3 linked regions of the Homo sapiens genome follow. The protein of the gene in region 2 interacts with the protein of the main gene of each other region in a pairwise test. Each region holds a gene or a part of one and is shown on either strand. Other genes may lie near its edges.

Evidence for each region.
Region 1: the proteins of MTMR1 (region 2) and ROR2 interact in a two-hybrid assay, tested with the Homo sapiens proteins (one study listed by BioGRID and IntAct).
Region 3: the proteins of MTMR1 (region 2) and PTK7 interact in a two-hybrid assay, tested with the Homo sapiens proteins (one study listed by BioGRID and IntAct).

What each region holds. Positions count from the first base shown.
Region 1 is NC_000009.12:91,733,729-91,737,228, forward strand, and holds part of ROR2 (tyrosine-protein kinase transmembrane receptor ROR2 isoform 1 precursor), read right to left. Parts: intron 1-3,500. UniProt on the Homo sapiens protein: Tyrosine-protein kinase receptor which may be involved in the early formation of the chondrocytes. It seems to be required for cartilage and growth plate development. Phosphorylates YWHAB, leading to induction of osteogenesis and bone formation.
Region 2 is NC_000023.11:150,724,396-150,727,895, reverse strand, and holds part of MTMR1 (phosphatidylinositol-3-phosphate phosphatase MTMR1), read right to left. Parts: intron 682-3,500; coding exon 587-681; intron 213-586; coding exon 105-212; intron 1-104. UniProt on the Homo sapiens protein: Lipid phosphatase that specifically dephosphorylates the D-3 position of phosphatidylinositol 3-phosphate, generating phosphatidylinositol. Could also dephosphorylate phosphatidylinositol 3,5-bisphosphate to produce phosphatidylinositol 5-phosphate.
Region 3 is NC_000006.12:43,128,314-43,131,813, reverse strand, and holds part of PTK7 (inactive tyrosine-protein kinase 7 isoform a precursor), read right to left. Parts: intron 2,838-3,500; coding exon 2,550-2,837; intron 2,088-2,549; coding exon 1,985-2,087; intron 1,585-1,984; coding exon 1,394-1,584; intron 1,304-1,393; coding exon 1,153-1,303; intron 1-1,152. UniProt on the Homo sapiens protein: Inactive tyrosine kinase involved in Wnt signaling pathway. Component of both the non-canonical (also known as the Wnt/planar cell polarity signaling) and the canonical Wnt signaling pathway.

The DNA.
Region 1 (3,500 bases), on a different chromosome or scaffold from region 2:
CCCCTAGCTCACTCCGCTAGGTGCTTCTTCCAGGACAAGAGGGTTCAGACTTCAGATGCAAAAGCAGATCCTAAGGACCCGCCATGTGTGGAGAGCGCAGGCCAAGAAGTGCAGTACCGAGCCCCAGGCTTCCCAATGTCCCAGATCTGTCTGGGGAGAAGGCTGTCCCGGAAGAGGGAGTCAGCTCAGCTCTGTGAACTGCAGCTGGAGGAGACAGTTGGTAAAATGCGGAAAGCCAAGAGGGTGAGAGCAGCAAAGTGGGAGGAGAGCCGCGTTACAACTCTGGAAGGTTCTGTGATAAGGGGGAGCAGAAAAACCCGAAGATCCAGAGCCCCCTTTGGTAGGGCGGTTTGTTTTTTAAGGGCAAGATGTCAGAGGATGCAGTTTGGTGGTTAGAAGATGGGGTGAGTTCGGGAACAAAGTGGGGGTGTTGGGGAGAGATCTGCTGCACCTGGGGTGCATGGCTGGACACTGGTAAGGGTGAAGAAGCTGGCCAAGGCAGGGCTCTAAGGAATGCATCAGCCTGCCCTGGGCTCACTACCCCATTTTCACCTGTGAAAGGCTGGCTTACAACAATTGAGCTTGGGGACAGTGGAGGCAGACAGGCCCCTTTGCCTGCACACCCAGCAGAGGCTGTGTCCTCCAGCGTGGCAGAAAACCCAGAAGCTGGCATTTAGTCCCTGAGGAGCCCTAACTCCACCCACGAATGCAGTTCAATCCCATCATTACAGATTTGGCGATTATTTGGTGATTATACAGAGGGCTGTCAAGAATGCTGGCCTTGACCTCCAGGCAAGGAAAGCGTGTAAGTGCTGTGCCAGGTTTGGCCAGCAGGTGGCAGTGCCGCTGTCAGTCATTCCCTGGGAACCCACCCAGGAACGGGATGGGCAGCTGTGTGGGAACAGCCTTGTGCGTGATCACTTTGTGGTATCACTCATGCCTTTCCGGGCCTGTTTCTGTACCTGAAGAGTGATTTGAGACCCCACACTGGGGAATGAGAGTGCACACAGAGCCTATAAAGTGGCCCTCAGCGTGAATGGGCCCAGGGGTCTGGTAAAAGGCGGCGTCAGTGGGCGGGAGCAGCCACGCTGTCCTGATTGTGTGCAGGCACTACTGTGCTCATCACATCACCTCCCCTCCTCTGGGTTCCTGTGGCCGATATTTAAATGGAGGAACAGAGAGGGCAAGCAGTTACAGTACAGGATGTCTTGGATTTGGAGGAAGAACTGAGGCTTCAACCCTGTTCAATCCCATCATTACAGATTTGGGATTATATGGATGGCTGTCAAAAATGTAGGTAGGCCTTGACCTCCAGGCAGGGAAAGATTGTCTAAGAATGCCAAAGCTGTCACTTCTCTTGGGCTAATCCACTGATAGGATGTCTCTGCTGATCTTTATAGGATTTCTCTTTCTCCTTCTCCTCACCCTGAGAATGTACTGCTTATTTCTGAAAGTGCAATTCTAGGCACAAAGAGATCCAACAACTCACATCCTGTTATCTGTCCACACCCTGAATGTCACACAACACTTTCCAACACAACACTGCACACAACGCAGTCATTACTATGCTTATTTCAAAACCACAAGTCTGTTGAGAGCAACTTCAAATTTACTGTTTTCAAAAAGCCACCCACCTAGAAAATCTTCATTCTAAACTCTTCTCTAAAAGATGCTATAAAACCAGGCTGCTTGGATGCAAGCTGATTCCTTAAACAACTCCTGAAGAGATAACTGAGGGACAATCTTGTGCCCTGGATCAGTGCTTGCCAATTAGTAGGGTGTCTAATTAATTCTGAGAGTCTGCAGCTAGCATTTTAAAAGATGGTAAGAACAGACTAGAGGATGTCAGAATGCACGGTTCCTACTAAGGGCTCTAACTTTTTTTTTTTTTTTTTTTTTTTTTTTTTTTTTTTTTGAGACAGAGTCTTGCTCTGTCTCTGGGGCTGGAGTGCAGTGGCGCGATCTGCAACTTCCACCTCTCGGGTTTAAGTGATTCTTCTGCCTCAGCCTCCCAAGTAGCTGGGATTACAGGCACCCGCCACCATGCCCAGCTAATTTTTTGTGTTTTTAGTAGAGATGGGGTTTCACCATGTTGGTCAGGCTGGTCTTGAACTCCTGACCTCGTGATTTGCCCGCCTCAGCCTCCGAAAGTGCTAGGATTACAGGCGTGAGCCACCGTGCCCGGCCACTTTTTTATTTAATGAAATAAAACTGAAAAGAAAAATCCAAGTGCACCGCTTTTACGAAGGGTGAAAGTTATTCCCTGTAACCTATGTCAGTTGTGTGAAATACATGTATGTGTACACTAAGTCATGGCGTAAAGTATATTCTCTATTTTCCACTGTGTGTTTCGGTAAAAACCTTTGAGAAGTCCTACTTTAATGGCAAAGAAAGCTTTTGCAGTGAGAGGTAGCCATATTTTCAAAACCATCTCCCGCTGGAACAGGATGGCATCTCCAGGTTCCTCTCTGTCTCATGATGGCTCTTTCAGTTTGCACAGGACCCCCTGGCCCTGTCCTCAGAGGTCTCTGTACCAGCACATGGGCCAGGCAGTCTCTTCTGTGACCGTGAATGTGATGTTCGACTCTCTAGTCCGAGGGTGACCTGAACTTAGAAGGGCTTGTCAGTGACATGAGGTGACTTTCTGCCTTGGATCCTCATTGTCACCCCTTAACAGGTCAGTGCCCTGTATCCCCTTTGCCCCACCACACTCTCCCAGGAGCGCAGGCATCAGAGATCACCCACTGACTCTAATCTGCAGCAGAGCCTCCCGCTCCCATGGAGAGGATCCAACTAAACTGAGGTGCTGGGGCACCGGCCATCTGCACAGGATGTGTCTTGCTCCTTATGGGATCTGGAGAGAAAATGTGTATGTGTTTGTGGAGAGAGTAGAGACAGCAGGAGGAGGGCTCTGTAGGACTATTGTCTAATTAATTTTCTTCCTTTCCAAGGCCTTTCCCCTAAGAAGGACCCCGGACCCCATCAATGTGTTCGAGTTGTATGCTGGGAACTGGGACAGCCAATCAGAGAAGTTAAGTCCTAATGAGACCAAGGATGAGCAGCTGCAGTTCCTAATTGACTTGCCACTTTCTCAGACCCTGAACCAGGTACCCAAAGACGTGGCTTTGTTCTCTGGAAACCCAGGACTGACAAAGTGTGTGTTCACTGCAGCATCCCTACCACTGATGACCCGCGACTCTTTCCCCAAAACAGCTGCAATCAGGCCTGGGTGCCTTTGGACCAAACGTGGCTCAGAGAGGATAGAAGAGTCAGGAAGTACAGAATGAGAAGTCAAGCAGAGTGAGTGTGGGGGCGCTGAGGCTATCTGCGCCAGTGTGGCAGGCCCGGGGCAGGAGGCCCTGGCGTTGCAGTGAGGACAGTGCTTTGGACCCACACGGTTTGGCTGAGTTAAAAGTGCAGAAGTATATTCCAAGCAACCCACACTTGCTAATTTAAACATACAGGCCAGGAACATTTTTAGGGCAAATCATGTTAGCAAT
Region 2 (3,500 bases):
CAGTACAAATTATTCTACTGTCCAAAGACCATGAAGAGACTGAGGGAGAAAAAGTTCAGAGCTGATTGCCCTCTTTTAGTTTTCACTTGGCGTTTCTATTATACCTTGCACACTATCTCTATACCACAGGAATTGTCTCCATGGCTCTGTGCTCCAATCTTCTCCACTCTGCTGATCACTCCAAGGGGAACATCAAGGATAAAATGCGGGTCCTAGGTTCAAAAATTAAGATCAATGCCTATTAGTGTCAGTCAACAGTTTTCATATTTTAAGTCTTTGCTGGGTTACAAAACATGTTTGTTTACTTCGCATTTCCTCTTTGTCCCAGCTAAATTGAAGTCTGATTGACAGCATTCCTTGTGAAATATATATTGAGACAACAATGGAATTTCCCCTCCAGGTTTAAGCGGTACTTTAACAGCCTTTGTTTTCAAGATACAAACATCTGTTTGCAAATGTGTGCATCTCAAAATCCAACCTGTGGTTATCTCAGGGTAATGGGATTTCAGGGGACTTTTTACTTTCTTCTTTTAGTGTTCTTTTAAAAGTGTTTCTTTTAAAATAAAACACACTTTAAAAAACTCACCCTCTCGACATTTTTGAAGTACAGCTTAAAGTCCGTCACTGTCAGGGTTCCACTCACTGCTCCCATAAATGGGCAGATATACATGACATCTTTCACTGAAAGAAAAAGGCCAAAGTAGCAACTACTGCCATAGACTTGTGCTTCCATAAAACTTAACACGAGTTTTCCAAATATATATTTGTGATTCCAGTTTTCCAGGAATTTTGTATTTTATAGGATTATATCAATTATGACTTTCAATATAGAGAGATGCATAGTCTTCTAATAAATTTCAATTTTTTAAAACAAAATTCTGATTTGCTACTTAATGAGGTTTTAAGTAAAGGGCCTCATAAGAAGTTATATTCTGTCATTTTTCCTAGGTAGTTAACATTTTCCCTGGGTGATAAATTAATCATATTCAAAACATTAATTAAACTCTGAAAACCCTGGGCTACTGTTTCATGAATTACTGCTACTTAAAACTAATGAAAACTAAAGATTGTCTCCTAATGCATCTCCAAAGGAAACTCTTTTTACAGAAGACAAAACCTAGAACCACATCAATGAAATGGAAAAAGACTTATTTCAAATTCCTTATCCCCTTATCAGTTTTAATTTTTTGTCAATATCTATTAAGTGCGTGACATATTTAATTCCCATTAGTGTTAAGAAGCTCACTTCTATCACAAAGATACCACATCTTCATGTTTTCCCAAAGTGCCATTCCACTGGAATGACAAGAATATACATAGCTATATATGAGTCCAAGTGAGACAACAAAAGGCATTAACGTCATTGAACCAAATTCTCAGAATACTTCCATTGAACTTTTCTATACTCCTTATGTACTGAGAGCCTTCTATTGCTGGGATTCTGGGTATAATTGGAAGAAGTTCCTGTCCATGAGCAGCCCATGACCTGTGAGAGATACCACACAGAAAAATCGCCATTATACTAGAGCAGAGGTCCCCAACCTTTTCGGCACCAGGGACTGGTTTCATGGAAGACAACTGTTCCATGGACCAGGGCAGAGGTAGGGGGATGGTTTCAGGATGAAACTGTTTCACCTCAGATTATCAGGCATTAGACCCTCATAAGGAACATACAACCTAGATTCCTCACATGCGCAATTCACAACAGGGTTCACGCTCCTGTGAGAATCTAATGCCACCGCTGATCCGACAGGAGACGGAGCTCAGGCGATAATGCTCACTAGCCCGCTGCTCACCTCCTGCTGTGCAGCCCCGTTCCTAACAGGCCATGGACCAGTGCTGATCCACGGCCCATGGGTTGGGGATCCCTGCACTAGAGGTTGACAAAAGCTAAAATAACAATGTGGACACAAAGTATTACAATGGAAGTTCAGAAAAGGATCAACTTAACTCAATAGGAAAGTGGGTAGGGGGAGTAAGAGAAGGAAGGGAGGAAGGGCACAGTGATAAGTTGTTAGAGGTTAGTATGCCTGGATCAATGGGTGCAGTGAGGACAGTCGAATATGAGGCCAGAGAAGTTGGCAGGGAGTGGATTGGCAAGTGCTTCTGTAGGAGACTAAGGCATTATTATCATTATCCTTAAAAGATAACTGTTTAAACAAAAACAAAAACAATATATTGTGGGGTTTATAACATATGTAAAAGTAAAATGGATGACAACAACAGCATAAAGGGTAGGAGGGGACAAATGGGAGTATACTACTATAAGGTTCTTATCCTGTACATGAAGCAGCATACAATCATTTGAAGGTAGACATAAAGATGTAAAATAACTAGTTACATAACAAAACAAACAATTATAGCTAATATGCAATCACAGGACATAAAATAGAATTCTAAAAAGTAAAAACCCCATAGTCTCGACCCAAAAGCTCCTTCAGCTGATAAACAACTTTGATAAAGTTTCAGGATACAAAATCAGCATACAAAAATCACTAGCATTCCTATACACTAACAACAGCCAGGCCAACAGCCAAATCAGGAATGCAATCCCATTCACAATAGCCACAAAAAGAATAAAATACCTAGGAATATGGCTACCCAGGGAGGTGAAAGATCTGTACAATGAGAATTACAAAATACTGCTCGAAGAAATTAGAGATGACATAAACAAATGGAAACACATTCCATGCTCATGGATAGGAACAATCAATATCGTGAAAATGGCCATACTGCCCAAAGCAATTTATAGATTCAATGCCATTCCTATCAAACTACCAATGACATTCCCAGAACTAGAAAAAAACTATTTAAAAATTCATATGGAACCAAAAAGAATAGCCAAGGCAATCCTAAGCAAAAAGAACAAAGCTGGAGGCATCATGTTACCAGACTTCAAACTATACTACAGGCCCACAGTAACCAAAACAGCATGGTACTGGTACAAAAACAGACACACATAGACAAGTGGAACAGAATAGAGCGCCCAGAAATAAGGGTGCACACCTACAACCCTCTGATCTTCAACAAAAGCAAGCAATAGGGAAAGAATTCCTTATTCAACAAATGGTGCTGGGATAATTAGCTAGCTATATGCAGATGACTGAAACTGGATCCCTTCCTTACACCATATACAAAAATCAATTCAAGATGGATTAGAGACCTAAATGTATAACCCAAATCTGTAAAAACCCTGGAAGACAACCTAGGCAGTACCATTCTGGACATAGGAACTGGCAAAGATTTCATGATAAAGATGCCAAAAGCAATCACAATAAAAGCAAAAGTTGACAAATGGAATCTAATGAAACTAAAGAGCTTCCGCACAGCAAAAGAAACTATCAACAAAGTAAACAGCCTACAGAATGGGAGAAAATATTTGCAAACTATGCATCTGACAAAGGTCTAATATCCAGCATCTATAAGGAATTTAACAAATTTACAAGAAAAAACACAAACAACCCCATTAAAAAGTGGGCAAAGGACAAGAATAGATACTT
Region 3 (3,500 bases), on a different chromosome or scaffold from region 2:
AACTACAGGAGATCAGCTCGGGAAGCAATGAGGCAAATGGCAATGCAGGTGCGAGAGAGAGTGATATGGTTTGGCTGTGTCCCCACTCAAATCTCATCTTAAATTGTAGCTCCCATAATTCCCACATGTTGTGGGAGGGACCCAGTGGGAGGTAACTGAATCATGGGGGCAAGTCTTTCCCGTGCTGTTCTCATGATAGTGAACAAGTCTCACGAGATCTGATGGTTTTAAAATGAGGCATTCCCCTGCAGAAGCTCTCTCTCCTTTGCCTGCTGCCATCCATGTAAGACGTGACTTGGTCTTCCTTGCCTTCTGCCATGATTGTGAGGCTTGCCCAGCCATGTGGAACTGTAAGTCCAATTAAACCTCTTTCTTTTGTAAACTGCTCAGTCTCGGGTATGTCTTTATCAGCAGCATTAAAATGGACTAATACACAGAATAACCACCATGTGCAACTGTCAAGACAGGGAAGCCACCTTCCCACAGGGCCACGTTGATAGGGCACCCAGCTCCAGGGTCAGATACCCCTCAGCCATACCAGGCAGGCTACTGATGATGTCCTCAGGGCTGAAGCCAAGTGGCATCCAAGCCCCTAGCCTAGGAAGCCACACCCCCAAGGACCATGGTCGTGCCTGACACTGCAAAGGTGTTCTATGTTCTCCTAGGGTCCAGGCAAGAACAGAAGTCCCTGCAGTAGGGCTGGAACCTTCTAGAGGTGTTTGCTTCCTCTAAAAAGTGTGTGTGTGTGTGTGTGTGTGTGTGTGTGTGTGTGTGTGTGTGTGTGATGTCTTTGCCACACTGGATCACGCTATCTAGACTATGACCACCTGACTACCTAGGTCTCTTGTGTCTCTCTCATCCCTGGGGTCTCTACCCTTCCATCCCAGAAGACCCATGTGGGTGGTGGGGAGAGAGAAGTGGAACCATCACTAGCTCAGAGTGCCTTTGTGCAAACTGGAAAAGGGCTCTTCCCAGAGACTCTTCCCTGTGTCAGACTCATCTTGTAAAAGCAAAACATTCAACTGTGTCTCTTGGAAATTTGAAATAATACATGTACAAATCTGTGATGTCTGTGATACAAATCGCACCCCCTTCTACAGAATGCATGTGTGTGGTACATGGTACTGGAATGCTCCCAGCCAGATGCCTTACCGACTGCGGTTAGTGATGGGAGTCTCATCCTCAAAGAGCCACTGCAGGCTCGGGGGTGGCTGGGCTGAGAACTGGCAATGGAACATGGCCTCCTCATACCTCGCTACTACCACGTCCTGGGGTGCCAGCACCACCCTGGCAAAGCTTTCATCTGGAGAGGGAAAGATGGGGGAGCATGCAGCCTGGGTGGTGAGGCCCTCCTGTGCTCACCTCATCCCTTCCGCCCCCACCCCAGGCTCACCAGCAATGCTCAAGGTGAAGTTCTGGCTGCTGCAAGCCTGGCCAAAAGCACTGTGGGCGCAGCAGGAATACAGCCCACTATGCTCAGGACCAGCTGGCCGGAGCGTCAGGTTCCGCTCCTTGCTGCTGACTGTGTGGTTGCTCTGACCATCAGAAAGGGGGGTCCCATCTCGGAACCATTGGTAGGTGGGCCTGCAGGGCAGACACAGTCAGCAGTGGTGGGGAGGGGTACTCAGTGGCCAGTGGAGAGGATACAGTATCAGAGGGTCAGGGCTAGACCTTTCAGTTTATACATGGAGAAACGGCCTGAGGAAGGGAAGGGACTTGCAAAAGGGCACACAGTAATTCTGATTCAGGGGCAGAATCAAGTTGATATTAGATCTCCCAGCTCTACACACAATGTGGCTCACTCTTCAGGCCACCAGGGGCCGGCATAGGGCAATATCTGGGGGAGGGCAGGGTGAAGAGCACTGTGGTGGTGGAACGAGTGGTCACAGAATGGAGCGAGGTAACATCCGCATAGAGTCCAAGATTTGGGGAGACATCCCTGTCCGGAATAACCCTCTTCATCCCCACCTCCCTGACTCCTTACCGAGGGTGCCCATCAATGTGGCAACGAAGTGTGACCTGGGTCTGTGGCTGGATCTCAGCTTCCGAGGCTGGATGCTTCAGGACCACAGGACCTGCCTCAATCCCTGTAGCAGAGGCCACGGTTGCAGTGAGGGGCAGAGCAGGGCAAAGGCGGGAAGGCAGAGGGCAAGGAGGACAAGCAGGAAGCCGTGGAACCTCGAGGCTCTGTGCCAACAGACACAAGGAAGCCCTGGAGGCTGAGGCTGGGGCTACAGTTACCAGATACTAAGTGCCTGCCTGGTCCCTGGCAGGTCAAGTCTGACACTTGGCCAAGGGCTCGGCCGCCCTTTCCATTTGCACAAGCATGCAGCAGATAAATGGGTCCCAGACTTGAAGGAAAAAATTTTGGAAAAAATATAACTTTTAATTTCCTCTTATCCACATGAGCAAAAAAAGCTGATGATAAATGCATTCTGCCTGGCCCGTTTAACTGGAAATGGGAGAAGCTGAGGTAAGGGAGGGATCCCCCAGGCCTCAGTCATTGAGGGTCTGACAGGGGGACTGGGCACAGCCCCCCTGGCTCTCACATTTGATGTTGAAGGAGGCGTTGGCACTGCGGGCTTCTTCTCCAGTGACATCATCCCGAGCCACACACTGGAAGGTGCCAGAGTCCTGCAGCCGGTCCACAGCTGCAAAGCTCAGGCTGCTGCCCTGGGCGAAACGCCGCTCCGTGTCCTGGACAGGGGCCCCATCGAGCAGCCAGTACACATGTACCGGGCCCGGAGCCTCAACCTCACAGCGAAGCAGCGCCCGGCGCCCCTGCAGTGCATCCTGGGAGGACGGCTGCTTGATGAAGACAATGGCTGTCTGGGTACCTGTAGATGCAAACAGGGGAGAGGCAGGGTCAGGGGGAGCTGCAGCCTCTGTCCTAACACAGGCCACCTTGTGCACAGGAGGAAAGGGGCTGTGTACACAGGAGGCGTCCAGTAAGTGCAGGTGTGAAGGATCATGATGCCACAATTGCAAGAGTCCCCTGAAAAACTTTTCTTTTTCTTTTTGAGATTTCTTTTTCTTTTTTTGCTCTTGTCACCCAGGTTGGAATGTGGTGGTGTGATCTCAGCTCACTGCAACCTCCACCTCCTGGGTTCAAGTGATTCTTCTGCCTCAGCCTCTCGAGTAGCTGGGATTATAGGCATGAGCCACCACACCCAGCTAATTTTTGTATTTTTAGTAGAGACAGGGTTTCGCCATGTTGGCCAGGCTGGTCTCGAACCCCTGACCTCAGGTGATCTGCCCACCTCGGCCTCCCAAAGTGCTAGGATTACAGGCGTGAGCCACCACGCCCAGCCCCCTGAAGAGCTTTTCAACTGTGCTGAGTGCTCTGTAGGATACAAAGACACAGTAGCCTCTCCTCAAGAGGTCTGAAGACTAGAGGGGCACACAGAACACAGTTACAGTCACATAAATGCCAAATGAATGGGGTGGGCAGGCAGTAGTGACTTGAGCACGAAGGAAGAAGGGACCCCTAAGGGCTGGCT